4 linked regions of the Homo sapiens genome follow. The protein of the gene in region 4 interacts with the protein of the main gene of each other region in a biochemical or structural test. Each region holds a gene or a part of one and is shown on either strand. Other genes may lie near its edges.

Region 1 (7,087 bases), on a different chromosome or scaffold from region 4:
CCTAAAGTGCTGGGATTATAGGCATGAGCCACCGCTCCCGGCCTCCTCCTATATCTCTTGATCAAACTTCAGGGGAAAACCTGCCAGATTCCCCAGGAAGGATGCTTGGAGGTAGGTGGCAGGGTACAGGGAGGCCTATGCCAACTTCTCATTGAACACCACTCCCAGCTTTCCTACCCCCATTTCTCTTCACAGGTGTGCAGAGAAGTCTACATTCCCATGTCAAGTAAGGGGGGTGGGTAGATGGGAGGGCATATGAGAGCGGGGCAGCAATTTTATGTCTGAGTTGGAAGGAAGTTTAGAGTTCATTGAGTCCAAATCCTCTTTACTAGGTGAGGAAACTGAGGCACAGGAGGGGGAGGTGCCATTAGCCAGGGAGTCAGAGCCAGGACTTAGAACCTGGTCCATGCCTCCTAGTTTGTTCCTGACCAATCCTCCCAGCTCACCCACTCCTTTTGCTCTCACCTCTGACTCCCTACAGGCTACAGCTAGAGAGTTGACTCCTCTATTTGAGGTAAGAGTGTCTGGATTTGGGATAAGGTGACCTCAGTTTGCAGGGCTCATGGGGGAGATCAGAGGGTCCTTTGTTGAGAAGAGGGGACTTGGTCCACAGTGAGCAAAGGAATTTGTCTAAATTGCTATTAAGGGAGATCATCTCCCAAGGTGGGCCAAGCCTGAACCCTCAGCCCTCCGTTTCTTCCCTTTCTTTTGCCTTCAGATTGACAGGCCTCGGAAGTCAAAATAAGTGGTTTCCTAGACCGGGTCGAGAGCAAGTCTCTATTGGTCCCAACTGAGTTTTTTCAGCTGGTTTTTCAACCAAACAGCACCTCATCTCCCAGTGAGGGGAAGGGAAGGCTGGGCTGAGAGCAGCAAGGCTGCTCATCTCACCTCTCCCCACCCAGCCATGCCAGCCGCCTCACCTGGTGGGGAGAGGTGGGCCTCACCTGGGTCCCCTGGCAGTGCTCTGTGAAGGGTCTTGACATTGCACTGTAATAATAAAGGTGTGTGTGAAGTATCTTTTTATGGTGACTTTCTAAAACCCAGGGAATCATGGGACCAGTTCTGATGACTCAGCCTGGCTTCCAGTCTCCTCCAGGCCCAACGGTGGCCCCCAGCACTGGTTGGGGCCTGGGAGAGCTGGCCTTGGCTGAAGTGAAGCCACCTACCCTTCAGGCATAACAGGACAGTGAGAAGGAAGGAAAGCCTGCCTCAACCTCCCATCAGCCCTGAGCACCCCAGAAGGGGGCCGGCTAGGAGTCTAGGCATGCAGGAGGCTGACCCCTGACTGGGCTCATATCCAGCCACAAGGCAGCCAGGGATCCAGGCACCCACCCCTTGTCTGCGTCCCTCTCGGGAATGGGCCTCTTGCCCAGGCCAGAAATACACCACCTACAGTACAAATTATAATCTAAAAACAAGAGGGTGGTGTTGAGTGGGGAAATTGGGGAAGGTGTTTTAGGAGCCACTAGGAAAATGGGCAGCAGGGACTCTCTGGACTGGCTTGGGAAGAGCGCTTTTGGGGAACCTGGAGGATGGCAAGCTGAGAAACACTGGTGTGGAGATTCCAGCCAAATCCCAGGCCTGCCCCTCCCCCTCCTCTGAGAGGCCGTCTTCTTGGCAGACAGCAGAGAGATGCATGACAAAGGTGCCGTGATGGTTCTGTCCTGGGGATTGAGATGGCTGGGGAGGGGCCTCCTCCTGTTCCGAAGCATGTTCCTCCCACCCCCACCAGGCCCCATAATCTACCTGCCTTTTGGGCAGTTAAAGGCCGAGAAGTGAACACAGCTGCAACCCCACTGCCTTGTAGACCTTCCGGCAGACCTGTGGCAGGTATTGAAATGCACGCATACAATTAGGCTCAAAAAGTCTACACAGACAGGAGATGGGCACACGAACAGAGGCAACATAAGAGTGGGGGAAAAGTCTCAAAAGACTCACGGATGCCACCAAGATGAAGACAGCTGGCCACGGGACACCCATCCCCTTAGAAGGCAGATAGAGCCACTGACCCCAGCAGACAAGCCCAGGCAGGGCTGAGCCTGGAGCCTGCAATGAGAAGCCTTACTTAAGTCGACAGAGGTCAGCGTGCCCAGTCCAGACCTGGCCTTCTGGCCTTCGAAGCTGTGGGGAGCCCTGGCCCAGAGCCCCCTCTGGAGCCCCCAGACTTACCCCAGGCCCTCCACTGAGATCAAGTTTTGGGAGCAGACAGACAAACATCATCCCTCACAGACAGGCATTCCGTTGGCTATTCTCTTGCAAACAGAATCAAGCACTAGACCAGCAGCATGAGCCTCAGGATACTCAGGCCAGGCCCAGAAAAACAGACCCTGAAGGGGAGCTTAGGGCAGCCTTCCTGCACGCCTCCACAAATCACTCTCCACCTCCTCTGCGTCTTTCTGCCAGCCAGCCCCACTAAACAAAGCACATCCCTCAATCTGCCAGGCTCGGGGAGGGACGCACGATGAAGCTGGACGCCTGAGTCCCCCAGAGGAAGGAGGAACTAGATACCTAGGTCCCTGTGGGGGGCCCTTGGTGCCCGTCTGAGGCTCAGTCTTTGAGGGGATTGCAGAGGGGGGTTGCTGGAGCTCCTTTTAGCGTCTCTGAAGGGGATTCTGTGTGAGGGGATTGGGACTGGGGGGTTGGGGAGCAGGAAGCAGTCCCCAGGGGAGCCATCCAGGCCCATTCAAGGGTTGAGCACTTGTTTAGGGTTAGAGCTGCCCCCTCTGGGGACCGGGATTGTCCAGCCAAGGCCATTGTCCTGCCCCCTTCCCCCAGTCCCTCCCAGGCTTCTTTGAACCTGAAGTCAGATATTTTTTCTCCACACCCCCCACCCCCTGGTTTTCCCCACCCAGGGCCTAGGGCTGGAGGCCTGGGCCAGGGAGGTGGGGGAGGGAGAACGGGGCCTACCGTGGTATTAGATGTCTGAGTTTTGGTTGAGAGGGGAGCAAGGAACCTGATGTGCAGGTTCCATAGTGGAGGGGGCCCAAAGCGGGTGTCTTATCACTCTGTTTCAGCAAAGGTTGGGAAACTGAGGCCCAGTCAGTCCAAAGTCTGGTCCCTTGAAGGGGAAGTAGGGACCAACCCCTTAGTCTGTTAGATGAGGAGAGTCTGGAGTCTGATTCTGGAAGACGGAGGGGTGGGGGGATGGGGGGGTGGGGGGATATAGCACGGAGGCCTTGTCTGGCAGTCTACTCTTGAAGATGGGGTGAAATTTGGCAGGCTGGGCAGATGGTGCCAGGCACCCAGGCTGCGGGGTGGCTGGATTTGGCCAGTATCGGGATGGGAATGCCTAGGATTCTGGATGGATCGGGGGAAGGCATAAGGGAGCAGCTGGCCATTGTGCTTATGGCTGTTGATGCATTGAGGGATAGCGCCACACACACATTCAATAAATTTGAGGAGCTGAGAGGGTGACTGGCCCCTGAAGGCACAGTGCCAGAGGTCTGTGGAGAGGGGGTCAAGCACCTGGGTTCCTGAAGAACATGGAGGTGTGGGAGTGATTCCAGACAGCTGGGATGTGCAGAGCCTGAGAGAGTGCCAGGGAGCGGGTTGGGAGTTGAAAGTTGGGTGTGGTGGCTCACGCCTTTAATCATGACACTGGGCGGCAGAGGCGGGAGGATTTCTTGAGGACAGGAATTCAAGACCAGCCTGGGTAACATAGCAAGGCCCCATCTCTACTAAAAATAAAAAAACTAACAGGGCACAGTGGTCCAAGCCTGTAGTCCCAGCCACTTAGGAGGCTGGAGCAGAAGGATTGCTTTGGCCCAGTAGATCGAGGCTACATTGAGCCATCATTGTACTCCACTGCACTCCAGTCTGGGCAACAAAGTGAGACCCTGTCTTAAAAAATAAAAATAAAAAAAGTTTCTGTGGGGGACCTGCACTGAGGTCCTGGAGGGGCGCCAGTTGTGTCTCCCGGTTTTCCCCTTCCACAGACACCATTGCCACCACCATTAGGCAAACATCCTTCGCCTCAGTTTCTCCCCCCACCTCCCTCTCCTCCACCCATCCAGGGGGCGGGGCCAGAGGTCAAGGCTAGTGGGTGGGACTGGGGAGGGAGAGAGGGGTTGAGTAGTCCCTTCGCAAGCCCTCATTTCACCAGGCCCCCGGCTTGGGGCGCCTTCCTTCCCCATGGCGGGACACCTGGCTTCGGATTTCGCCTTCTCGCCCCCTCCAGGTGGTGGAGGTGATGGGCCAGGGGGGCCGGAGCCGGGCTGGGTTGATCCTCGGACCTGGCTAAGCTTCCAAGGCCCTCCTGGAGGGCCAGGAATCGGGCCGGGGGTTGGGCCAGGCTCTGAGGTGTGGGGGATTCCCCCATGCCCCCCGCCGTATGAGTTCTGTGGGGGGATGGCGTACTGTGGGCCCCAGGTTGGAGTGGGGCTAGTGCCCCAAGGCGGCTTGGAGACCTCTCAGCCTGAGGGCGAAGCAGGAGTCGGGGTGGAGAGCAACTCCGATGGGGCCTCCCCGGAGCCCTGCACCGTCACCCCTGGTGCCGTGAAGCTGGAGAAGGAGAAGCTGGAGCAAAACCCGGAGGAGGCAAGTGAGCTTCGACGGGGTTGGGGTGTGGGGAGGTGGTCATGACAGGGCAGCCTGATGGGGAAGTGGTCACCTGCAGCTGCCCAGACCTGGCACCCAGGAGAGGAGCAGGCAGGGTCAGCTGCCCTGGCCAGGGAGGGGTGTGTATCAACTGCTGGCAGCCCTGGCAGGCAGGGGCCAGGTGGGAAGTGGAAGCTGGATTTCGAAGAGACAACTGCCGGTGAGGGCAGAGCAGCCTGGGAGAGTCGGAAGCTGGCCCAGGCTGGCCTTTGCTCTGGCCCAGCCCTTGTCAGGGTCTCTCACATCTCCTAGGCCTGCCCAGGGTCTGGTCACTCATTACTGGCCCAGCACCAGACCCAGCTTGGGGTTGGTTTGAGCCCCTTTTCCCACCCTTAGTCCTGCTTGAAAATTTGACCCTTATCAGACCCAAGATTTTGGCCTTAGGGTTAAGCATAGCCTGAGGGTAAAAACAGTGCTCATTCCAGGATTATTGTTCCTGAAAGTCTAGGGTGTGACTCGTTTCTGATAGGATCTCCTGTTTGGGCTGTGTGTGTGCGCGTTGTGAGCTGGGTTTACCTCCAGTCAAGTATAGGGCTTGTCTTCCCCGGATCTCTGCCTCAGGCCAATGACTGGCCACTGTGTTAAGGTGCACACCCTGGCACCCCTTGTAGAAAGCTGGATTTTGATTGACTTCAGCCTCAGTTCCAAAGTTGTAAACAAGAAAAATGGTGAGAGATTTCTCCAGGCCATTTGCAAATATAGAGCTGCTGCGGGATTGAAGGCATCCAGCCCTGCTGAGGACTATTAAAGATGTATCTTCCAGTCCTTCAAGGCGACAAGTGTAAGCAATTAGAGATTAAATACTAAGCCTTGAGACCTCACAGAAAGGTGTGACTGGTTTCTGGAGTGACCGAGAAGCCCCAACCTCTTCGCAGGAGGTCACTGCTGAGCCTTGAATGATAATGGCTGGCAATTGTGGTCCACTTCCTAAGTGCCTGGCTGTGTGCTCCGTTTATACATCATTATCTCATTAACCAGCACAAAATCTCCTAGGGGGAGGTATTATTATCCTATTTAACGGGTTTTAACTGCTAAATGATGAAGCGAGGATTTGGACCAGTGTTTATTCCAAAACCCCAAAACAGAATTTGGAAAATCCAAGATAGCAGAGGGCATTTATCAGTTTGAGTTATTGGCTGAGCAGAAGTTGGGGATGAAAACAGCCTATTTGAAATTGATATGATCAAGCACCATTGAAACACTTCCTTGAGGCTTCAGAACTACAAAAAGGCCTTGTTTTTTTCTCACTAGCTGTGCACCTCTGTCTGCCGGCAGCCTCATATGGCATGCCCCAGGGCTCAGTCCTTCAACCTCTGCTCTATCTACCCTTCCTTCCTCTCACCCACCCTCAAGGCTTAAATGCCATTTAGACACCAGATGACTACCGCGTTTTCTGTCTCTTGTGATGGCTCCCTGAACTGCTCCACCCTGATCACCCAGTTGCTCAAGGCCAAACCCAGTCATCCTCAGTTTCTTTCATGTCCTACATCCTATCCTTAAGAAACATCCTGAATCAATCACAACCTAACCCTGGCCTCAGCCACCATCATCTCTGCTGGGATTACCGCAGTAGCTTCTCAAATTATACTGCTTCCTCCCTACTGTCTGTGGCCAACACGTCAACTAGAGTCAGTGTTTTAAAAGGTGTGGCCAGGCACTTTGGGAGGCCGAGGCAGGCGAATCACCTGAGGTCGGGAGTTCGAGTCCAGCCTGACCAACATGGCGAAACCCCATCTCTACTAAAAATACAAAATTAGCTGGGCGTGGTGACGCATGCCTGTAATCTCAGCTACTCAGGAAGCTGAGGCAGGAGAATCGCTTGAACCTGGGAGATGGAGGTTGCGGTGAGCCGAGATCGCGCCAGTGCACTCCAGCCTAGGCAACAAAAGCGAAACTCTCAAAAAAAAAAAAAAAAAAGGTGAGGCTAGGTGCGGTGGTTCACACCTGTAATCCCAGCACTTTGGGAGGCCAAGGTGGACAGATCACTTGAGGTCTCCTGACCAGCCTGGCCAACATGGTGAAACCCCATATCTACTAAAAATACAAAAATTAGCCGGGCATGGTGGTGGGTGCCTGTAGTCCCAGCTACTCAGGCGGCTGAGGCAGAATAGCTTGAACCCAGAAGGCGGAGATTGCAGTGAGCCAAGATCACGCCACAGCACTCCAGCCTGGGCGATAGAACGAGATTCCGTCTTGGTGGGGAGAAAAAGGGTGAGAGATCATTTCGCTTGGACTAAAACAAAGTCACTATGTCTGCAACAGGATCTACCTAGCCACCAGACCAGCTTTGGGCTCTGGAAGGCCCACTTCAGGGCCTTGCCACATTAGACTCTTGTCCTTTGCTCAAACAATCACCTTCTCTGTCTTTAAAAGTGTCACCCTCCTCCATAATCTCCTTCCCTCCTTTACCCTACTCCTATAGACTGCTTTATTTTTTTTTTAATTTTTGAGATGGAGTCTCACTCTGTCCCTCAGGCTGGAGTGCAGTGGT
Region 2 (7,437 bases), on a different chromosome or scaffold from region 4:
AGGATCGCTTGAGCCCAGGAGTGGATGTTACAGTGAGCCAAGATGGTGCCACTGCACTCCAGCCTGGGTGACAGAGTGAGCCCTATCTCAAAAAAAGGAAAACAGGGACCAGGGAGACAGGGAAAAGGTTAGAATCACAATTTTGAAGGAAAGAAGGCACACACATACACAAACATCTGTTTTTCATCTTGTGTGATGAGTTGCCCTTGAAAAGACAGGATCCTACTTTTCCTTAAATGTTTTGAAGCATATTAACCTGAGTATGGGAGGACCTACTTCTAACAAATACTGTACATTCATGGACAGAAGTGGGGAACTGAATTTCAGAAGCCACAGCTATGGAGCCCTGAAGAGATGCCCGGAGCCTGGGTTTCAAGGCCCACAGGCACTGGAACTAGGCCTGGCAAGCACTGTCAGCTCAGCTCCTCGGTTGCTGTGTAGTAAAAAGCTGCCACTTAAGTATTGGAAGAATCATGGCTTTCAATGGAAATGGATTTCTTATACTGACAGTTTCTCCTGGAGAACGTCTTGCTCTGTTGTCCAGGCTGGAGTGCAGGGATGCAATCATAGCTCACTGCAGCCCTGACCTCTTGTGCTCAAGCCATCCTCCTCCCTCAGCTTCTCGAGTAGCTGCGACTACAGGAGTGAGCCACCACATCTGGCTATTTTTTTTTTTTAATTTTGTAGAGATGCGTCCTCGTTATGTTGCCCAGGCTGTTCTCGAACTCCTGGCCCCAAGTGTACCTCCCGCCTTGGCCTCCCAAAGTGTTGGGGTTATAGATGTGAGCCACTATTCCTGGCTGAAAGTTTTTTAAAATTAAAATATGGATAGTAGCAGTTTCAGTCTGAGCCACAGAGGGTGGCAGCATCAATGAATGGTAACTGCTGTTACAGAGTTCGGACCACAGCTTTCTAGTTTCAAAAACATGATTTTTAAAAGCATCCACAGGTGACTGGAAATCCTTAAGCAACATTAATAAACTTGTTATATAGTAACTTATATGCCAGAATGTTAATCTAATAGAGGAGAAGATAAGGAGAAACCACAACCATATTCAAAACATCAATATCTAATACTAAAGACTACGGAAAACTGTTATCAGAAGTCAGAAAGGCATGGAATGAAATCAAAGAACATTGTATAGTCTTAGAAAATATTTCATTGGGGCAACCCGTTCGGGTCCCCTTCCACGCTGTGGAAGCTTTGTTCTTTCGCTCTTCACAATAAATCTTGCTGCTGCTCAAAAAAAATATGTAATATAATATATATATTTTATATATATATATTTTATTGGTCTCTGAGAAAGTCTCCCTTTGCAGTACGAACTAACCTTGTGGAGTGGCTAGATCATGACTGCTCACTTCAGCATCTGTCTCTTACTGAATGTTTCTTATCCTCTTGCTTTCTTGGGGGTCTGAGGATGGGGGGCTGTAGCATGTGTAAGAGATGACACTCACTAGACACACATTTTTGAGGGCTGCCCCGCAGCAGGAAGCGGCTCTGGAGGCCATGGGCCAATGAAGGTGCTGTGACGTTTACACTCACAGCCATCTGCAGCAGTCCACACTTTATTACAGTTACAGTTAACATTTTCTTCCACAGTATTTCCTGATAATATTTAACAAAATAAATAATGAGACTAAACCCTAACTCATGTCAAATGAGTTTGAGCAATTATTACCTTACACACACTATACTGTCCCAATAGCCAGGTAATGAAATCTGATCTGGACACTCATTCTAGAAAATAGAGCAGTGCTGTCTGATTGGGGGCGGGAGGAGTATTCCCACGTCTTGGTCCTGCAGAGACAGCTCCCCGACAGCTCTGAGAAGCCCCAGGGCTCAGTGGCACCCGCTTTGAAACTCACCAATGCAAAAAGGAGAATCAAGAAGTAAAAATCTGTCTGTATTCAATTGTATAAACAGTATAGCTTTGTCATGTAAGATACTAGCACAGCAATTAGTTACTGGTCTTCTGGGCTTCCTCCAAACCTCAAACCTTTGGTCCCCAGACCCACACACACACATTCATTCAGCTGAGGGGCAAATGAGATAAATCAAACTGTTTTAATGGCCTCTTGGTATGCATTTCAAGAGAGTTGACATCAACCCAATTTTCTGCCAGCAGTGTATATAAGCGTTCATTTCGCTAACCATCAGTAGCATTATCACTGGAAAAGAATTCTGTCCTTTGAAGAAAAGCAATGTTACGTTGTTTGAATGTGTCATTACTAGTGAATTAGAATAGCTGTCAGTATTTATTAATAGTTTTATTTCTTCTATTGTACATTATCCATGGCTTTTGCGTTTTATGTGGGGAGGGATATTCGTATTCATCTTAGTGGATAAATACCACCTTACTTGGAAAATAGAGCCAAGGGTTAAATTCTAGGCAAAACCAACAGGAAAATCAGGGTAAGTTATCTAACTTACATTAGGTTGAATGAGAGATGGTATCTGCGTATAAAATTTTAAATGATCCCTACAAAGTATAACTGGGAAAAAAATGTGGAGTTATGCTGCCACTTCTTTCCTAAAAGGTAAGCTTCCTTTTATTGATACGATGTTGTCTTACTCGAGTGCCTTCTCTAAAATACACAGAACCATGCAGTCCTCTATTTTACAGATGAAGTAACAGACTGTTTAAAAAGGTGACTCACTGAAAGCTCTTCATTGTTGGAATTCCTGGCCCAACATTCAAACCAGGCATGGCTTGCTTTTCTTCTGACACGTTTTAACCCCTCTACTAAATTTTTAGCGATATATATTTACTCTTAAAATGAATTACAATTATTCTGTGATGTTCTTTGAGATAATCAAAAACTCTCTGGGATGTATCAGATTGAGGGCTGTGAATAGCATGAAAGATTGTGTTTATTTGACTAGTGTATATCACAGACCTATTCAAGTACCACCCATTTCTAAATTCTAACAGTCTTAGAAACCAGCTGTAGAAGCAGATTGATATATTTTATCAGAATCCCCAAATTCCTACAACCGTCTCTTCCTAATGACTTTTCAGGTGGGGACACGTGCCAAGACGGCCAATAGATACCTGAAACCCGGGGTAGTGCTGAACCTTACTTACACTACGTTTTCTCCTATACACACCTGCCTATAATAAAGTTTAATTTAGAAGTCAGGCACAATGAGAGATTAACAACACTAATAATAAACCAGAACAATTATAACACTATACTGTAGTAAAAGTTATGAGAATGCGGTCTCCCTGAAAACACCTTGCTGTCCTGTACTCACCGAATTTCAGAGCAGAGGACTCTGACTGACAGGTGTTCCCCGACTCCCAGTGGCGAAAGGTCCTCAGGGAAAACAGGTGAACGCTATCAAAGTATGCTTATCTCCGAACCTTTCTTAAACCAGAGTCTTAAGGGATCGTCTCTGATTAGGTCTAGAATTCCTCTCCATAGAAGATAACCTACTTCTCGCGCAAATCTGCAGTGTTCTTGCAGGGCTGCTGATGGGTGGTCCTGTTCTTTTCGCGGTCCTGTTTGCGCAGAGATGAAACGGGGAACTTAGCGTATCCCTACCGCTCTTTTTGATGACAGGAGTAAAGGGCTGTTCAGACTACCTAAACAATGTTGTTAAGAGAAGCACTCGTACTTCTCAGACTTCGCTGTTCCGGACCCCGCGAGCCAGGGGCAGGCACCGGGTCCACCCGGGGCTGAGCTGCGGCGGCGCCTGACAATGCCCCCTCGCGCCCCGGCCTCGGCGCCCGCTCCCGGCTCCAGCGCGCCTGCACGTACGTAGCCTTCACGTGTGTGTGGATACGGAGTGCATGTGTGGAGACAGAGGAATATGCTCCAACAAATTTCGGATAGAGGCGCCGAAGACAGGACGTGGGGAAGGTAGGAGCCGCGTGCACGGCTCCGGCCCCGGGCGGGAGGCGGCCGCGAGCCGGGCCGGCCGCGCGCAAGTCCGGCGCCAGCCGCTAGAGCCCCCAGTGCGCGGCCCGGCCGCGGGGCGCCTCGACCCGACACAATAAACTCCGAGGGCGGGCGGGCCGAGGGGCCGGTGGGGCCGAGCGGCCGCCCCGCGCGCATCGCCATGTGAGCGGCTGCCGCGGCTTCGCGGGGACCCAACTTTCCCGGGCGGCGGCGCCCAACTTCCCGCCGCCCGCTCCGGCCCCGCAGGCCCGCGGCGCCAGGGGAAGACGCGAGTAAGTGCGGGCGGCGGTGCCCTCCCGGCCCTCACCCCGCACGCGGCGACCCGGCCGCCTAGCCTCCCTCGCTCAGGCGCGACCGCGGCGTTCTCTGAGGTGGAGTATTACAAACATGGCGCCCCTCGAGCCCGGAGCCCTTCGCGCGGAGCCGGCGGCGGGGTCCGGGCGGGGGGGAGCCGGGGAGGAGGGAGGAGGCCGGCAGGGAGGAGGAGGAGGCGGCCTGAGCGTCCCCCCCGCCCCCCGCGCCCGTCGCCGGCTCAGGCCCGAGAGGCGCCGGGCGGCGGGAAGGAGGCGGCACCGGAGGGGAGGGCCGGGCGCGGCGGCGGCGGCGGTGGAGGAGCCGGAGCATAATGGTGGGGAAAGCTCGGCGGCGGGGCGGCGGGGCGGGCGGGGGCGTCCGTGGAGATGGCGCGGCCCGCGCGGTGGAGCCTGCCTGGCCGCGGCCTCTGGGGCGGCGGCGGCACCAGTGGGTGCTGACGGTCGCTCGCCCGCTCGCGAAGAGCTCCGAGCTGCCGGGGAGCTTTGTGGATGGCGGGGCGGGCCGGGCCGGCGGGGCCTGCGAGGGCGGCGGCGGGGCCTGCGGAGGCTGCCGGCCCGCGCCCACTCGCCTTGGGCGGCCGCGGAAGAGGCCCCGGGATGAGGCCCCGGAGGACCGCGCGGGGCCTGCTCGGGCCGGGAAGCCGCGGAGTCGCGTGAGCACCGCCCGCCGGGCCCTGTGCCCCGCTTTCGGTCAGGCCTCCTGGGCCCGTGCGCAGTCCGGGCCGGCGGGGAACGCGGCTCCGGGCGTGTGGCGGGCGGAGAGGAAGCGTTTGTCGGCGCGGCACGTCGTGTGCTAGCCCGGGAGCGGCGGGCAGGGCTGGCCCCGAGGCCCGGGGCGGAGATTCGTCGGTCCCCCGGGGCTGTGAGCGACCCCGGCAGCGAGGCCGCCGCCTCAACAGGTCCTCGCGGACCTCCGGGACAGTCCTGTGGGGTCCGCCGCCCTCCTCCCACCCAGAGCTCCGGGGAGAAGCTGCTGAGGACGCGGCTGGGACGAGGGGGGGCGCCGGGACCCGGACTTTCACTTGCAGTCTCTCCTCGCGCTTTTCTCCCGAGCCGGGAGGAGGAGGAGCTGGCGATGTGTGCGCCGTGCCCGGTGTCTTTTGCAGAGTGACCGCCGTACCTGTTTTATTCGTGTGTACCAGTGCTCGTTGTGCAGTGCGGTGTCCTATGCGGTGGGTACGCAGTACCGGGGATTATATATGGTGTGTACTCTGTGTCATATGCAGTGTGCTCGAAGTACCCGGTGTCGTACCGGCTATCATACACGGTGTGTACATGTATCTTCCTCGCTTAGGCTGTGCACTCAGCCCCCGGTATTGTGTGCAGTAGGTGCCTGGTACCCTGCTGCCATATGAGCTGTGCGTGTGGTACTCCATGTTATATACGAGTGTATGTAGTATCTGGATAGTATTGAATATATTTACCTTACCTGTTGTCACATACAGTGTGTATGTAGTACCTGGTGTCATATATGCGGTGTGTATAGTACCAGGTGTCATATACTGTGTGCACACAGTACTTGGGGTCATATATGGTGTGTACATAGTATCCTTTCACACTGTGTATGCAGCACCCAGTGTCATATACAGCCCTTACGCGGTTCCCGGTATTTTGTGCAGTATGTGCACGGTACCGTGCTGCCATATGCGGTGTGTATGCAGTATTCAATGTCATATACGTTAGGTATATAGTATCTGGTGTCATATACAGTGTATATACACTACCTGGTGTTATCTATGTTTTGTATATATATCTGGTGGCATGTACAGTATGTATACATTACATAGTGTTATATATGGTGTGTAGGTAGTACCCAATGTCATATGCCATGCATATATGGTACCCAATGTCATATGCACCATGCATGCACTATCCTTGTCACATAAGCTGTACTCAGTGTCAGATGCAGTGTGTACCTAGTACCGAGTGTCATATGTACTGTGTACACAGTACCCACTGTCATATTCAGGGTATCTAGTACCCTGGGTCATATACAGTGTGTACATGGTATCTGGTGTCAAGAATGTGAGCCTGGAGGAGATACCCAGGTGGCCCATTCAGGACCCTGCTGGTAGGAGGGAGTGGTGCAGGTTGGGTTTTTAGGGAGGTCTAGAGCCCTTGGTCCTCCTCACTTAGGTGTTCTGCATCCCACAGTAAGCTGAGTCATATGGAGGCAAGAACATTCTTAAAAATAATTTAATCTGTTTGTCCAAAAGCAGAAAGTAAATGTTTACTTGTTTTCCTGTAAACTGAGAAATATAGTAATTTTAGCTTAGTAATTATGGTGTGCACAACGTTTTCAGATTTTTGAGGTTGATTTTAATTAATGGTTGGATGTTATCAGGGAGATAGTGTTGGTTGTACTTTGAAAGTTGAAAAGTTAGAGTGCTTTCTGGTAGGCAGGGTCATCTTTGTAGTTTTTCTGAATGTCTTTTTACAAGCAGGAGAAAAAATATGAATGTCTGTAGAGGCATTTAATTTGCCTTGTCTTTGACTAACTGGCACAGGTTACATTATAGTTGTTATTTTTGGTTGACTCATCTTTATAAGATGACCAGGCTAGAGAATCAGAGATCAGAGGATATGGGATGTGATTATGACAGAATCAAAATATTTGTCTTGCTTGACTCTGTTACTTAAAGGATTTCTGTATTTCACATGGTGCTTTTCCCCCATAGAGATTGCTCATATGAAAACCAACTCTTCCTTTTACAGTCTCTAAATTGGACAATTTATTTTTGCAATTACCATTTGTGAGGTGTTTAAATAAATGTACATGTACGAGCTTCCAGCTTCACAAAAAGAAATCAATTAAAATGTTAAAATTTAGTTCTTTCATTCATACTGAATACCATTCTGTTGGCGTTTTTTTTTTTTTTTTTGAGATGGAGTCTTGCTCTGTCGCTCAGGCTGGAGTGCAGTGGTGTGATCTCGGCTTACTGCAACCCCTGCCTCCCAGGCTTAAGCGATTCTCATGCCTCAGCCTCCCGGGTAGCTCGTACTACAGGCATGTGCCACCACACCTGGATAATTTTTTGTATTTTTAGTAGGGGGCCGGGGTGGGGGTGGTTTGCCATGTTGGCCAGGTCTCAGACTCCTGGCCTCAAATGATCCACCTGCCTTGGCCTCCCAAAGTGCTGAGATTACAGATGTGAGCCACCGCACCCGGCCCTGTTGGCGTTTTGAATGGATGTCATGCATGTTTCAATGAATGACA
Region 3 (7,609 bases), on a different chromosome or scaffold from region 4:
ACACTCCTGTGAGGAAGATTTGGAACATATTTCTGTTTTCTTTTTTGTTTTTTATATTTTGCTTGGGTAGCATATTTCTTTCTGATTTCTCCAAAAATTGGGAACTATCTGTGAGCACTATTTAAAAAAAAAAAAAAAACTTTTCCCTCTCCCTTCCCCTATTTGTATTCTAATGTCAATATAATGATGTGTGCACGTGCAGTAACAATCTGTTTTCTCTTGTAATAGGACATAGAGACACTGCATATTTTACCAAGGCTTTGACTGGAATGGCATGCTTTCAAATATAAACAGACGGCTTTAAGGAATCAGAGTTGACCTATAGTGCCCATCAAAGCCCTTGGGAAAACTGGCTTCATACTGTATCCACCCAGTGGATTCTTCTTGCCCAGATGGAGCCCATGTATCAAGGTAGGGAAACTGCAATAGAGAAAGGGTTTAATTCACACAGAGACAAGTGAATGGGAGACCAGAATTTGATGATTACTGAAATCAGTCTCCCCAAGAATTTGGGGACTAGGGTGTTCCAAAGGTAGTTTGGGGGAAGGGGTGGGGTAGCTTGGCAGTGGGTGCTTGCTGCTGATGGGTTGTGGGGGCGGGGGGCCATCGTAGGGTGTGAGACAGGATCCTCCCGTGTGCTGAACCGCTTCTGGGTGGGGCTGCAGGAGTAGTTGGCAGGTCCAGGTGGAGCCATCATCAGTCAGTGGGTCCTGTTGGAGCCGTAGGTATCAGACATGCAAAAAACCCTTGCGAGGTACTGCAAAAGGCCAATCTTAGGTTACAATAGCATTGTTATCTGCAGGACCTCTGGAATAATGGCTGATAATTGTTTATGTCTACATCTTAGCCAAATTCAGGCTCCTCTCCTCTCCCTAGCCTGGTGGCCCCTCATTAGTTTTACAAATACAGTTGAGTTTTGGGGAGGGGCTATTATCATGTAAACTATAAACATCTCCCAAAGCTAGCCCAAGAATAACTGAAGGCAGCTTGAAGGCTAAAGGTCAAAGGGGGTTTGGCTACATCAGATCTTCCCCAATTGGCATAATTTTCTCAATGATACAATTTTTGTGGCCGGGCTCGGTGGCTCACGCCTGTAATCCCAGCACTTTGGGAGGCCAAGGCGGGCAGATCACGAAGTCAGGAGATTGCAACCATCCTTGTCAACACAGTGAAACCCCGTCTCTACTAAAAATACACAAAAAATTAGCCGGGCGTGGTGGCGGGCGTCTGTAGTCCCAGCTACTTGGGAGGTTAAGGCAGGAGAATGGCGTGAACCTGGGAGGCGGAGCTTGCAGTGAGCCGAGGTCGCACCACTGCACTCCAGCCTGGGCGACAGAGCAAGACTCCGTCTCAAAAAAAAAAAAAAAAAAAAAAGCCTACATGGTAAATATTTATTCTTGCTACAGTTTATACAAATAACCAGGCCAAGTACAATAAGACTAAAACTTATTTTGAAAACAAATCAGTACTACCTGATTTCACTTTGGTAAAAATAGGAGACTAGAGAGAGAAAAATTATGTTTCAAAATAAACTATAGTATACCTGTTATTAGATTCTAGCCTTGCCTAAGGTTTTTCAACTTTTATTATTTTCTCTTTTTTTGTTTGTTTATTTGTTTTTTCAGACAGGGTCTCACTCTGTCACCCGGGCAGTGGTGTGGTATCAGTTCACTGCAACCTCTGCCTCCTGGGTTCAAGTGATTCTCGTGCCTCAGCCTCCCGAGTAGCTGGGATTATTGGTGTGCACCACTATGGCCAGCTCATTTTTTTGTATTTTTAGTAGAGATGCGTTTCACCATGTTGGCCAGGCTAGTCTCGAACTCCTGACCTCATGATCCACCGGCCTCGGCCTCCCAAAGTGCTGGGATTATAGGCATGAGCCACTGCGCCGGGCCAAAGCCGTGCTTTTCTTAAAGCTCTGCGAACGAAAGCTAGACAACTTAAACCTCAGAAGAGAATAATGGTACCTATTTATATACATAAACCACTTTCACGCCTGCCTGCTGTGTATGGACTTCAGAGGAACACAGCCTACGTCAGTTTTCTAGGATTGTTCTCTCCACGTGCTCTTTGTTTTCTTTCTTTCTTCTTCCCTCTATTTTCCTCCCTCCCTCCCTTCCTTCCTTCCTTTCACAAAGTCTCACTCTGTTACCCAGGCTGGAGTGCAGTGGCACGATTTTGGCTCACTGCAACCTCCGCCTTCCGGGTTCAAGCGATTCTCCTGCCTCAGCCTCCCGAGTACCTGGGACTACAGGCAACCACCACCACACCCAGCTAATTTTGTTAGTTTTAGTAGAGACGGGGTTTCACCATGTTGGCCAGGCTGGTCTCGAACTCCTGACCTCAAGTGATCTGCCTACCTCGGCCTCCCAAAGTGTTGGGATTATAGGCATGAGCCACTGTGCCTGGTCACAACACCTGCATTTTCTTTTTTTTTTGTTTTTTTTTTTGAGACAGAGTCTCACTCTGTCACCCAGGCTGGAGTGTAGTGGTGTGATCTTGGCTCACTGCAAGCTCCGCCCCGTGGGTTCACACCATTCTCCTGCCTCAGCCTCCCGAGTAGCTGCAACTACAGGCACCCGCCACCATGCCTGCCTAATTTTTTGTATTTTTTAGTGGAGATGGGGTTTCACTGTGTTAGCCAGGATGGTCTCTATCTCCTGACCTCGTGATCGACCCGCCTCAGACTCCCAAAGTGCTGGGATTACAGGCATGAGCCACCACGCCTGGCCAACACCCCCATTTTGTATACCACACTCAACTCCCCCATTTTCTACATGCTGATCAAAACCAATCTGAATGGAGTCTAGGTCTGGCTGTGGGCTGTTGGGAAGAGGCCCCCAAATCTGGCCATCAACTGGCCGCAAAACTGGCCATAAACAAAATCTCTGCTGCACTGTGACATGCTCATGATGGCCATGACTCCCACACTGGAATGAGGGCAAGGAACACCTGGCCCACCCAGGGCGGAAAACCGCTTAAAGGAGTTCCTGAACCACAAACAATAGCATGAGCGATCTGTGCCTTAAGGACGTGCTCCTGCTGCAGATAACTAGCCAGACCCATCCCTTTATTTCCCGTAAGAAGTGCTTTTAATCTATAATCTATAGAAACAATGCTTATCACTGGCTTGCTGTCAATAAATATGTGGGTAAATCTCTGTTCGAGGCTTTCAGCTTCGAAGGCTGTGAGACCCCTGATTTCCCACTCCACACCCTATATTTCTGTGTGTGTTTCTTTAATTCCTCTAGCGCCGCTGGGTTAGGGTCTCCACGACCGAGCTGGTCCCGCAGTGGGCAGTGGTTTGGGCCCGACCGAGCTGGTCCCGCAGTGGGCGGTGGTTTGGGCCCGACCGAGCTGGTCCCGCAGTGGGCGGTGGTTTGGGCCCGACCGAGCTGGTCTCGCAGTGGGCGGTGGTTTGGGCCCGACCGAGCTGGTCTCGCAGTGGTTTGGGCCCTGCTTGCTCGACTGGATTTCAACAGTGAAGCCAGATTAGAGGACATGCTGGCTGCCCCGATCCTGGACCTGGACCAATGGTGCTTCCTAAACATTCCATGTCAACTTTTCTTTTTCCACCTTCCAGGGCTGGGCTGTGAAAGAGATTGGAGAGGCAGGTGCCTGTGAGAGAAGCTTCTACCAGCCTGGGAAGTCAGGTCTTCCATGAGTGAGGGGAGGTATCTACTTTGCCAAACCTTGTTAGGGAATGCTGACATAGCTGCCTCTTCCTGCCCAGAAGCTAAGCTTGAATGCCACCCCTCACAGAGCTTCTCTCCTGTCTTTCACTCACTCCTGCTTATTTCTGTGACAGAACTTGACAGCATGGACATTGCCACTTGCTTCCTTCAGTCTCCTGGAGTCCCCATGTCCTGAACACAGAGGAGGCACCCAAATGCTTGCTGAAGCCACATCCCTGGACCAAGTGACCTGACCCTCACCTGGAGGACCTTCACCTTCACCTCTCACCTGGAGGACCCTCTCACCTGGAAGACTCTCTCACCTGGAGGACCACCCCACCTGAAGGACTCCCAACTGGAGGACCCTCTTACCTGGGGGACCCCCTCCGCTGGAGGACCCTCTCACCTGGAGGACCCTCTTACCTGGAGGGCCCTTCACCTGGGGGACTCCCCCACCTAGAGGATCCTCTTACCTGGAGGTCCCCTCACCTGGGGAACCCCCCCCCCACCTAGAGGATCCTCTTACCTGGAGGGCCCTTCACCTGGGGAACCCCCCCCCCCCACCTAGAGGATCCTCTTACCTGGAGGACCCCCCACCGAGAGGACCCTCCCCCCCCACCTGGAGGACCTCCCCACATGAAGGACTCCCACCTGGAGGACCTTCTTACCTGGGGGAACCCGTCTCACCTGGAAGACCTTCACCTGGGTAATCGCCGTGGCCTCCCACTACGGCGCAGCCGGGTCGGCTGCCCGGGCTTCACCCTAAAATAAGGCCCGAACTGCAGCAGTCGGAGCCGATCCCTGGAGCCCAGCGCCTAGGGCGGACCCGCGGGAGCGTCTCTTGGTAACCGTTGCTAAGGAGAGGAAGCCCGGGAAGGAGCTTTCGCGCCTGCGCCGCGGGGCCGTCCGCGTCTGCGCCTGCGCGCAAGAGAGGCGGGGCCAGCGCTCGGCATGGCGGAGCCAGATCTGGAGTGCGAGCAGATCCGTCTGAAGTGTATTCGTAAGGAGGGCTTCTTCACGGTGCCTCCGGAACACAGGGTGCGCGGGGTGCCACCCGGGCAGCTCTGCCCGCCTCGCTAGCGGCACTGCCCGGCTGGGTCTGGGGAGCCTCGTGTCGCGCTGCCGCGCCGAGGCTTCCGGCACGGGCGGGAACGACAGTCCCAGAGTTCCCCGCGGCGGGGGCGGAAGCCGGGGCGGGGCGGGCTCAGGACCCCCGACAGCCGGTCCCTGGAGATCTGAGGGGCCGGGGCGGGCTCAGGGATGCCTCGCGCCCGCGGAGAGACGGGCCCGGGACTTGGGAAGAGCAAGCTCCGGGATCCAGCTCGGGCGCTGCTGGGTTCAGCGCCCGAGCTGGGCTTTGCAGGCTGAGCCGCGAGCCACTTGTTTGTGGGGAGAATTTACACCCGCGACGAGTTCGAGCTTGAAGGCTCCCGCTGGGCTTGGGCTGCATGGAGCGGGGTCCAGCGCTGCCTGGCGGCTTCACGCGAACCCTGGGCGCGTCCCTTGCGGAGGTGCCGGTGCCTCCCTCTGCAGAGACCAGGAGAGAGCCTCTGGGCGTTGGGCGGTGTTGCCCAGGTGCACGGCTGGTGGGGGTGGAGAGCCCTGAACTTTGGCCGCTGGTTTGTGTTTTTAACTGCTGGCTGGTGCTCTGAGAGGCCAAGCCACGTGTTCAGTAAGAATCATTAACAGATCGTGGCTGGATGACAACAGGAGCCACACTTTACTCATCCAGACGTGCAGCAGGCGCTCACCGCGTTGAGAGCCGTGTGCTGGACTCTGGGGTGAAGTAGTGAGTTGGCCTTTTCTTTTTTGTTGTTTTTTTGAGACAGGGTCTAGCGCTCTCGCCCAGGCTGGAATGCAGTGGCGTGATCACGGCTCAGTGCATCGTCAGCCTCCTGGGCTCAAGTGATCTTCCTGCCTCGGCCTCCCAAGTGCTGGAATTACAGGCGTGAGCCACCGCCCCCAGCCTGGCCTGGCATTTCTTTGAGTTCAGGAAGTGTGACAAGGATTTGGACACCCAGAAATAAGCGTGTCGAGAAGAGCACAAGCAGAGGATGTGAGAAGGGGAATTAAGGCGGGAAAGGGAGTTTGAGACTAGGCCATCAGTGAGTGACAGGCCAGATGCTTCTGACTCGGTCCCCAGGTGTCAGGAAGGAATCAGACTGAGGACAAATGCGGCCAGTGGCTCACACCTGTAATCTCAGCAATCTGGGAGGCTGAGGTGGGAGGATTGCTTGAGCCCAGGTTTGATACTGAGGGTTAAGAGAAGGGAAGCCGGGAAATGGGGGCTGTGAGGTTTCAAACCTTGCTACGTGTGCTTTTTTTTTTTTTTTTTTTTTTGAGACGGAGTCTCATTCTGTCACCCAGGCTGGAGTGCAGTGGCGCAGTCTCGGCTCACTGCAAGCTCCACCTCCTGGGTTCACGCCATCCTCCTGCCTCAGCCTCCCAAGCAGCTGGGACTACAGGCGCCCGCCACCACGCCCAGCTAATTTTTTCATATTTTTAGTAGAGACGGAGTTTCACCGTGTTAGTCAGGGTGCTCTAGATCTCCTGACTTCGTGATCCACCCACCTCAGCCTCCTAAAGTGCTGGGATTACAGGCGTGAGCCACTGCGCCCGGCTTACATGTGCTTCTTAGATCCATGGAGAAGGATACAGACTCTACTAGTTCAGAGACCCCAAAATACAGGGCCTCAAGATGATGCCTTTTTTCACTCTCCCCTAACATTCTGGAGAGAAGCAGTTGTTTTGCACAGGTGGGTCAGGCATTCTGGTTCCATTTTTTCTTCCCGTCACTGAGGTGAGAAGAGGTGAAAGCTTCCTTTCACCTGGAAGTCACACGGTCCCTTCAGCTCACATTCCAAGGCCAGATGCCACTGGGTAGCGTTTCATAACTTCCAGGAGGTAGTGATACAGGGATGCTGGGACAGCAGCCTCTGCCACAGATGTATTTTTGTATGTGGGATTGAAAGGGAGTATCTGAGTGGCCGCCTCTGATATTTCTTTCAAAGCATTGGCCCAGTATCGTCACCACCTTTTCTCATCAGAAAAGCCCAAGAGGCCGGGTACGGTGGCTCACGCTTGTAATCCCAGCACTTTGGGAGGCCAAGGCGGGCAGATCACTTGAGGTCAGGAGCTCAAGACCAGCCTGGCCAACATGGTGAAACCCAGTCTCTACTAAAAATAGAAAATTAGGCGGTTGTGGTGGCACCTGCCTGTAATCCCAGCTACTCAGGAGGCTGAGGCCGGAGAATCACTTGAACCCAGGAGGCGGAGGTTGCAGTGAACCATGTTCTTGCCACTGCACTCCAGCCTGGGCAACAGAGCGAGACTCAGTCTCAAAAAAAGAAAAAAAAAGCCCAAACGTGTGGTTGCCTTTCTGTTTGGTGAGCAAGACGTGAGTGGGCTCCCTGGTACAAATTCCATTTGAAATTTCCTCAGTTGTTCCATCAGCTGCCAAATTTCCACACTGGCAACACCCTTCTGTTTCAGCTGGGACGATGCCGGAGTGTGAAGGAGTTTGAGAAGCTGAACCGCATTGGAGAGGGTACCTACGGCATTGTGTGTGAGTGGCCAAGGCTAGGACATGTGGCCGCAGCTCGTGGCTGTGACAGTGTGGGACGAGACTGTCGAAGCAGCAGCCGCGTTGGGGCTGGAAGGGACTCAGACCCTGTGCTCTGAAACAGGGCAGAAACCTGTTCAGGAACTTCAATTCCTGATGTAGTTATCACAAACATTGTACCATTTCTGGGTAAACGTAAGCATCCGGTTGCTAATGCCCATAATCCAAACGTGTCACTGCAGAGTACACAGAACTGTTAGAGAAATAAAATACAGAACTTTCCAGAAGCAGCAGGAGCTGGACATGGTGCTCATGTCTATCACCTCAGCAACTCTGGAGGAGTCACCTGAGCCCAGGTGTTTTTTCTTTTTGT
Region 4 (7,515 bases):
GTTCAGTTTTCTAGTTAGCAAAATACATAAGCCGATGCACTGAGGATTATTCAGTTCCATGCATACTGTTGGAATCATTTTGTGATTCAGACAAAAACACACAACTATAAAATCATATATCTGTACACGTCTGACTCAGTTCAGACACATTTATTTAGGGATTATCAGTTTTACAGAATACAACGGGTCGCTATTACTATTTTGGTTGTTCAGACTTGCCTAAAGCACGTCACTGTGCAGTTTGATATCATGGTGGATTTTCAAGCGGTTTATACCCTCCCAGAGTACTGCCTTATAAGGGAAAATGACTGTGTCAGGGTGGCAGTGTGCTGGACGAGGGGGCAGGAGGCCTGGAGTGTGGCCCCAGCTTTGCCAGGAAATAGGCATTTGACCCTGGGCAAGGAATTGATCCTCCCTGGGTCTCAGTTTCTGCATCTTACAAACCAGAGTTGGTCTGAGCCATCAGCTCTCTGAAGTTTTTTCCAGTTTTAAAATCCAATGTTTCATTTTCTCGTTTCTGACCACCAAAGGCAAGAAAAACATAGTCAAAGACACCATGGTTCCCATTGACAGCACTGGGATTGATTTTATACCTTGTTGTCAACCAAAAGTGCCAGTGCAGGGCAGCAGTGATCAGCGATGCCCGCAGGAGACCAAGACTTCCAGGGCCAGGGGACCTGCTACTTATTTATCACACACTTAATGACACGCCAGACACTGTTCTAAGTGCTTGGGAGACATTAACAGAGGGAGGCCCCGAGGGGCCCACAGGTGGCCTGCTAGGGAATGGCTGGGCGGGATTTGACCCCAGGCAGTCTGGGCCCACAGGCTGCCCTTCAGAGGTGAAGACGGTAGCCCTAGCTGGGTAACCATGTCTTCATGCCCACAGGGAGTGCAAGGGACAAAGGAGGCTGACAAGGAGCAGAAGGAATTAGAAAGGAGCATTAGCAACGTTTTTGACCACCAGCAGAATACCCTATCTGCCATTCCAAGGAATCTCACAGAAAAGACTAGACACTGGCCAACTCTTGCATAATCTGGGTCCACCCTGATGGAGCAGGAGGCAGCTCCACGGCCCCACATCTGCCTAGGATTCTTGGTAGCTGGGCCAGCCTGCAAATGGGCAAGGTTGGTTGGATTCGGAGGTGGGCGGAAGTGTGGGTTAAGCTTATCAAGTCCTTGACCCCAACATATATCAGTGAAATAGCCACCACTGCCAGACACCCCAGCAGGCCAGATGCAGGCGGCAGCTTACACATGAGGAAATGATTTCTATCTCTAGGTTCATTCTTTTCTTCCTCCACTCCTTACCAAAGTCTCACTGTGCATGTGATTTTAACTGAACTGTGCACTTCACTTTTACTTCTTGAGGGCGGGAACTAACTAAGCCTTAATCATATTTGTCTTCTCAGCATCTGACTCTGTGTTTGCTAAGTGAATGAATGATGCACTTCGGACCAAATGACGTCTGTTTAACTTGCAACTGGAAACCACCACAAACTGCCTGTTGACTACTGATTTGGATTTTAAGGTAAATACAGACATGTTTCTAAGGAGACGTTTTTGTGTGTGTTTTTTTTCAAAGGATGACTTCGTAAGCTAGCTAATCATTTCTCATAATTATGTCTGGATTCTAAAGAATTCTTTTTCTGCATTTTACTCTCTAGATATTTCATGTTCGTAACACATATATTCTACTGTAATATCCCTTTTCCTCCTCTCTTCTGTGAATGTCCCTCTTTCTTAAGGGGAAAGTGTTAACATTGCTCATAACTCAGTCTGCCATAGCGCATCTGATCACTCCACCCTGTGCACCTTCTGACTTTTAATTTCCTTCCAACACCCTCGACTTTTGATCTCCAAGCACAAGGGCTATACTTTTATTTATTAGGTTTAATTTACTGTAAAGCTCATTGTTCCCTGTGAATCGCACGATAACAGTCAATGAATAATCACTGGCTTCAGCCAGACTGCTTTTTAATTCTGCTGAGTAACTGGCAAGCCAACTAGTATTAAGGACAAAAATGTAAGGAACCCTGATATTGCCCCAGAACTAGGATAAGCCATTTTATTATGAACATGTGACTGCCCTCGTGCAGAGGTGGATCAGCTACAGGGCAGGACCCAGGGCAAGGGGGCTGCTTGGGGCAGCCTCAGACTCTTTGGAAGGGGAAATAGGGAGGACCAGGGACCTGGGTGGGAGGCAGGAGCTTAGGCTTACGATGACCCCAGCACACAGGCCCAGCTTCCTCTTCCCACAGCCTCCCTGCCGTCTTAGCTCTGCCATTTGGTCTTCCGGCCGGGATCCCTTTCCCAAGGCTTTCACACATTTAAACCCGCGAGGGGCAGGACTTTTTTTTTTTTTTTCGTGTATATGATAGTTTTTTCAAAATGTTTTCTATAAAATCCTCCCTGAGGAGAGCTTGGAAAAAGATTCTTAATAGCTAGATCATTTTGAGTCCTTCTCTACCATGTACTCAACACTCTAACATATTCTGCACATTTGGTTCTATGTCATTTGCCATAGTCTTAAGGACGTAGGTTCCATAATCATCCCTTATTCTGTAGAGGAGGCCCAAGGTTAGTGAGCAGAGGAAGGTTCCACTGTCGGGAACCGGTGGTCTTCAAACTCCTGTGCTCCTCTTTTGATATCTTTCTGCTCATATATGTTGGAAACAGCCCAGCATGAGCAAAGCACCACCTCCTAGCCCCCAGCCTGTGCCAGCCCTGCAAAGAGGAAATATGGCTCCACTCAGGGAGCCCATCAGCGACTCAGGGAGCCCTGGAGCACCTGGCACTCAGCACCCATGAACACGAGGGCAGGCATGGTGGGACAAGGCAGTCTGCTTGGGGCAAGTGAGCTTCGGGAAGTAGCTGAGCTTTGGGGAGCAGCTGTCTATACCCAGCTTCTCAGGGCTGTGCAAGTAGCCTGAGGGAGAAAGACCCTATATTAGCTGAAACTGCAGCCCAGATGAGTCAGTATTTTCTGCTACGGTTTTTTAAAAAAATAGTAACATACTCATGTCTCCATGGTAACTTACTATGGATCTGTATTCCATTTATGGAACTCTTTCTTGACCTATCTGTGTTCTCTAATCTGGGCCTGAATATACACTGAGAAGCCATCAGAATCAATTCAGTCTCCAAGAAATAATCACTTCCCCTATACGTGATTGTTTCAGCCGTATAGATTCTGACTGTGACTCATGCCACGGTGATACCCGGAGACCTTCGGGGACCCAGAAACATTAAGGTGCACCGATATCTCAATTATCCGGATAACTCTAGACCTAGAGTCACCATGGAAACCTAGAACCCTGAGTCACAGAGAAGCTGGGCCATTCCTCTCCCTTCCCGGTGGTGCCGCAGTTCTTGAGATGTGAGCAGCTTTCAGCCCCGTGGCCTCGCCTAAGCTGGGGTTTCCTATTTCATCCACAACTTCAGGAATCTAAACTTTCCTGCAAAATATTGAGCATGTGACCTGAGTCCAAACAGCCATGGACTCAAGCACCTTCTGATAAAAACGGAAACCACAGTGTAGGGGGTGGTTTTGACCAGGGTTTCGGAGTCAGATAAACTCAGGTTTCCACCTTGAATTTCTCATCAATCTGACGTGGCAGGTTATTCATCCTAAGGTTCAGTTCCCACCTGTGTAAAGTGGGAGCCGCAAGTCCTCCGAGAGTGACGATGATGTGCGTGGAGTGCCCAGCCCAGATTGAAGCGCGGCCAAGGCGGGTCGCTATCTGGGCACCGCTCAGCTCCAGAGGGCGCCACTCCCGCGGAGCCTGCGGGATCGGGGCTTCCCGGGAGCAGCGCGATCAGCACCACGACTCGGGGACACAGCCAGGGCCCGGTTTCTACAGGAAGCGCCTCATTTGGAGCCTTTTTGTGATAGAATGATCATTAGTCCTAAGCCCATTCAGAGGTTCAAGAATGGGGTCGGCTCAATTTCAGGGCCTTATTACCCAAGCCCGGCTGCCCTTCGGTGCCACCAGCACCACTGCTCCGTCGCTGCGGAATTCCAAAGGCAGGTTTGGCGTTAGGGCCTTGGCCCCAGAGAGGACGCCGAGCGCTCCACGGAAAGTCTCCGCCCGGCTCCCAGGGCGCACACTCGCGCGCACGTGGGGCCGAGGCCCTGCTCCCGGGGCCTCAGGGCCAGCCGGCGAGGGACCCAGCCGAGTGACAGCAGGAGGCGGAGGGAAGGTTGGGCCGGAAGGTGTCAGCCCCGCCCCGCGCTCCCTCGCCGCCTCCGCCCTCCTCTTCTCTCCCCTCGTGCGTTCCCTCTCCTCTCCCTCCGCTCCCCCAACCCTCCTGCTGCCCCCTTCCCTCTCCTCCCGCTTCTCCCCATCCTGCCTACCTCCCTTCCCCTCCTCTTCTCTCTCCTCCCCTTCCCTCCCCTCTCTCTTCTCTCCTCCCTCGTTTCCTCCCCTCCCCTCCACTCGGCCGTCCCTCCTTCCTCCTCCCTCCTCCCTCCTCCTCCCGCTCCTGAAGAGCGCGCCGCGTGGGGGACGGCCCGGTTACTTCCTCCAGAGACTGACGAGTGCGGTGTCGCTCCAGCTCAGAGCTCCCGGAGCCGCCCGGCCAGCGTCCGGCCTCCCTGATCGTCTCTGGCCGGCGCCCTCGCCCTCGCCCGGCGCGCACCGAGCAGCCGCGGGCGCCGAGCAGCCACCGTCCCGACCAAGCGCCGGCCCTGCCCGCAGCGGCAGGGTAAGAGCTGGGCCCGCAGAGAGCGCCCGGCGCGCGGCTCCAGTCCCATGGAGGGTCACCCGGGGCCTGGGCGGGGGTCGCGGGGGGCACTGACACGCAGATCTCGGGGCGCTGCCGGGGGTGCAGGTGGGGGTGGCGGCTGCTGCGAGGACTCTAGGGGCGCGCGTCTGAGTTCCGCGCCGGCTCGTTTTCCGGTTATGGAGTGGCCTCCGGGGCTGGCGGGGTCGGCCGGGGGGTTCCTGCGTGCTAGGGCCGCTGTCTTCGGGGTCGCCTAGCGGCGGGCGCGGCCAGGGCGCGCTGGCTTGTTTCGCTCGCTTTTGTTTTTAAAAGGAAACGCAGGCCTGGTAGGGGGTCCTGCCCAGTGGATGTCCCGGCGAACATGATTTCGCGAACGGGAGTGGGGGCACAGGAGAGCGTGTCCGAGGTGGCCTGGCGCCCCGGCTTTGAGGGTGACTTCCTGGAGCGGCGCCGGGCCCGGAGGATCTGGGGCGCCCAAGACACCTGAAGGCTGCGGCACCGCGGGAACCTGCGGGGCGCGGGGTGCCATGGTCACCTGCTCGCCGCGTCCAGGGCCCGGGCTGGGGACCCCTCGGTCGTGCGAGGAGAGCGTGGGGAACCTGTCGGAAATGAGATCTGGTTGCGCTGGGCTGCCTTTATTTTCTCGTTCCTACAGCATTTGAATGAAGAGGTAACTGAGTGTTTGCTTGTGTGTGTTTGGGTTGCGTGTGTGTTATCCTATTTTATTTTTTACGGCAGGAGACCTTTTATGTTAGCCTGTACACAATTTCAGGGTAGCCTAAAACAGTAGTTGACGCGCTAGTTATTTAGAAAGTAAAGAAATGAGCAGTCCCCTTTGGAGACAGGAGTAATTTATTTTAATTCGCCAGTAAGAGATTATATTTGTTCCATACAATGGAAGCGCCTGTGCGTTATCTGCCTGCCCACACCACCACCAATCAGAGAGATAAATCTCCACGTTAAGCTTTATTAAAATTCTGAGTAGTAGCGCAGCACAGTAAATGTTAGCACCGACCATCCGCAGGGAAATGCTCAGATACTCATTTCTGGGATTAGTCATTCATCTCTCTAAACTGATCGCTTTCAAAGCGAAAAAAGCAAACTACCTTCAAATGTGTGTTACAAGGTTGTGTTGTTTCTTTTTTTTGTTTGTTTTCAAATTTATCTAAATAATCTTACATAAGTGATTACTTGTTCCAATAAGGGTACTGTTGTCAGGCAAATTCTCCTTGTTTTTAAATGTAACCATTCTCAGCTGTTACATTTCTGCTCTTTATCCTTTTTTTTTTTTTTTTTTGGTTTAAAAGCAGCGATCCATCAGCAACACCAAACTTGAAATTGATTTATGTGGAAAAACTTGGCTTGTCTGCCATCTAACAAGCCCTGTTGAGTAAAATAAGCAAGCTTAAATTTGATTAGTTGTGTGTCTGCCTGAAACCATTTAGTAGAGCACTTTAATTCTGCATGGTTTTTACAAAACTCATTAAAAGCTGGACAACAAAAGAATTCTATTCTGTAGCTAGTAATTACAGCTCTTTATGTGGGAGTGGTAGGCTGCCTTTTCTCCTGGTATTTGTACACAAAAGCTGGGGAGAGCTTTTCCACTGCCTTCCACATTCATTCTCTGTCCATCTCAGAGAAGCTGAAAAACAGAATCAAGTCAGCAAGCAGTCTGCAAGCCTAAGGAAGAAAAAGAGCTGACCCATCCGGCTCTGGATGGATAACTGGCAACACCCAAGATGTCTATGATTTTGGCCTTCTGTTTGAGGCTTGTTTATTTCTTTAATCAGCAGCTACCAGGACTTATTTCATGCAGAGAAATGACATAAAGCTCTAGAGGAAGGAGCATTTCACATTGGAAGGAGTAGTGAGAAGGGCCTGATCTGATAATATCAGGATGGGTGGGAAGGGTCCATTCCTCATCATTCATGTTCTCCCGGCACAGAGGACTGTGTGGAGGACTCAGGATTTAGGACCATACTCAACTGGGGTTTGATCTCCACTTTGCCCTGCGGTGGCCCCTCTGGTAGCTATGTGGATCCTGGGCAGATTGTCCATGTTGCTGGGCCTCCGTTGCTTCACTGTATGACGTCTGCCTCTCAGGGATGCAGGAAGATTCAATTAGGTAGGAGTGGATGGTCCCCCAGCACGGGGCTTAGCTCTTAGTAACTAGGCATTCTGGCAATGGCAGCCATCAATAGGAGAGACTATTGATTGTTGAGTGAATATAAGTGGCATAATCCACCAAGTGGAGATTCTGAGTGAATGTGGCCACTTTGGACCCAAGACTGCTGCCCCTCTCTGTCCTCTCATAGGACTATTATTTATTGCCAGTGCTGACCAGCCTTTGTTGGCTACCATGATCATTACCTGCACTCCGAGTGTTTTAACAGAATTTTCTGATGCCTCTGGCCTCACCTGCTGCCTTTTAGCCAAGAGGGGTGTGTGTGTATGTGTGTGTGTGTGTGTGTGTGTGTGTTGGGTGTGTGTTGGGTAGCAGGGTTCTTGGAAGGTCTGGTTTAGCCATAATGTTGATCATAAAGAGAAAACAAGAAAATAAATGCAAATTAAATAGTTCGGTGAGCCTTTGTTATTTCGCCACATCCAGTAAGTTCTATCAGTTGAATGTTGTCTGAATTACTTAAAAAGTTCTCAGTTGTAAACAGGTAAGAGCACCCAGTGGAGGCCATGGAGCTAGGCTTAGAGCTTTGCCACCAGCCTTCAGTTCCATAGCCATGAACCTGGGAGGGCAAGGAATCACCCTAGAGGTGAAGGCCATTCATCGGTGCT

The links.
Region 1: the proteins of ETS2 (region 4) and POU5F1 form a complex in vitro, tested with the Homo sapiens proteins (one study listed by BioGRID).
Region 2: the proteins of ETS2 (region 4) and ZMYND11 form a complex in vitro, tested with the Homo sapiens proteins (2 studies listed by BioGRID).
Region 3: the proteins of ETS2 (region 4) and CDK10 form a complex in vitro, tested with the Homo sapiens proteins (one study listed by BioGRID).

The regions. Positions count from the first base shown.
Region 1 is NC_000006.12:31,167,665-31,174,751, reverse strand, and holds the start of POU5F1 (POU domain, class 5, transcription factor 1), read left to right. Parts: upstream 1-4,069; 5' UTR 4,070-4,131; coding exon 4,132-4,536; intron 4,537-7,087. UniProt on the Homo sapiens protein: Transcription factor that binds to the octamer motif (5'-ATTTGCAT-3'). Forms a trimeric complex with SOX2 or SOX15 on DNA and controls the expression of a number of genes involved in embryonic development such as YES1, FGF4, UTF1 and ZFP206.
Region 2 is NC_000010.11:131,026-138,462, forward strand, and holds the start of ZMYND11 (zinc finger MYND domain-containing protein 11), read left to right. Parts: upstream 1-4,429; 5' UTR 4,430-4,534; intron 4,535-4,572; exon of another isoform or gene 4,573-4,647; intron 4,648-4,783; exon of another isoform or gene 4,784-5,392; intron 5,393-7,437. UniProt on the Homo sapiens protein: Chromatin reader that specifically recognizes and binds histone H3.3 trimethylated at 'Lys-36' (H3.3K36me3) and regulates RNA polymerase II elongation. Does not bind other histone H3 subtypes (H3.1 or H3.2).
Region 3 is NC_000016.10:89,682,086-89,689,694, forward strand, and holds the start of CDK10 (cyclin-dependent kinase 10), read left to right. Parts: upstream 1-4,603; 5' UTR 4,604-4,625; coding exon 4,626-4,712; exon of another isoform or gene 4,713-5,249; intron 5,250-5,404; exon of another isoform or gene 5,405-5,463; intron 5,464-5,550; exon of another isoform or gene 5,551-5,730; intron 5,731-7,166; coding exon 7,167-7,239; intron 7,240-7,609. UniProt on the Homo sapiens protein: Cyclin-dependent kinase that phosphorylates the transcription factor ETS2 (in vitro) and positively controls its proteasomal degradation (in cells).
Region 4 is NC_000021.9:38,801,414-38,808,928, forward strand, and holds the start of ETS2 (protein C-ets-2), read left to right. Parts: upstream 1-4,515; 5' UTR 4,516-4,557; coding exon of another isoform or gene 4,558-4,707; exon of another isoform or gene 4,708-5,395; intron 5,396-6,023; exon of another isoform or gene 6,024-7,515. UniProt on the Homo sapiens protein: Transcription factor activating transcription. Binds specifically the DNA GGAA/T core motif (Ets-binding site or EBS) in gene promoters and stimulates transcription.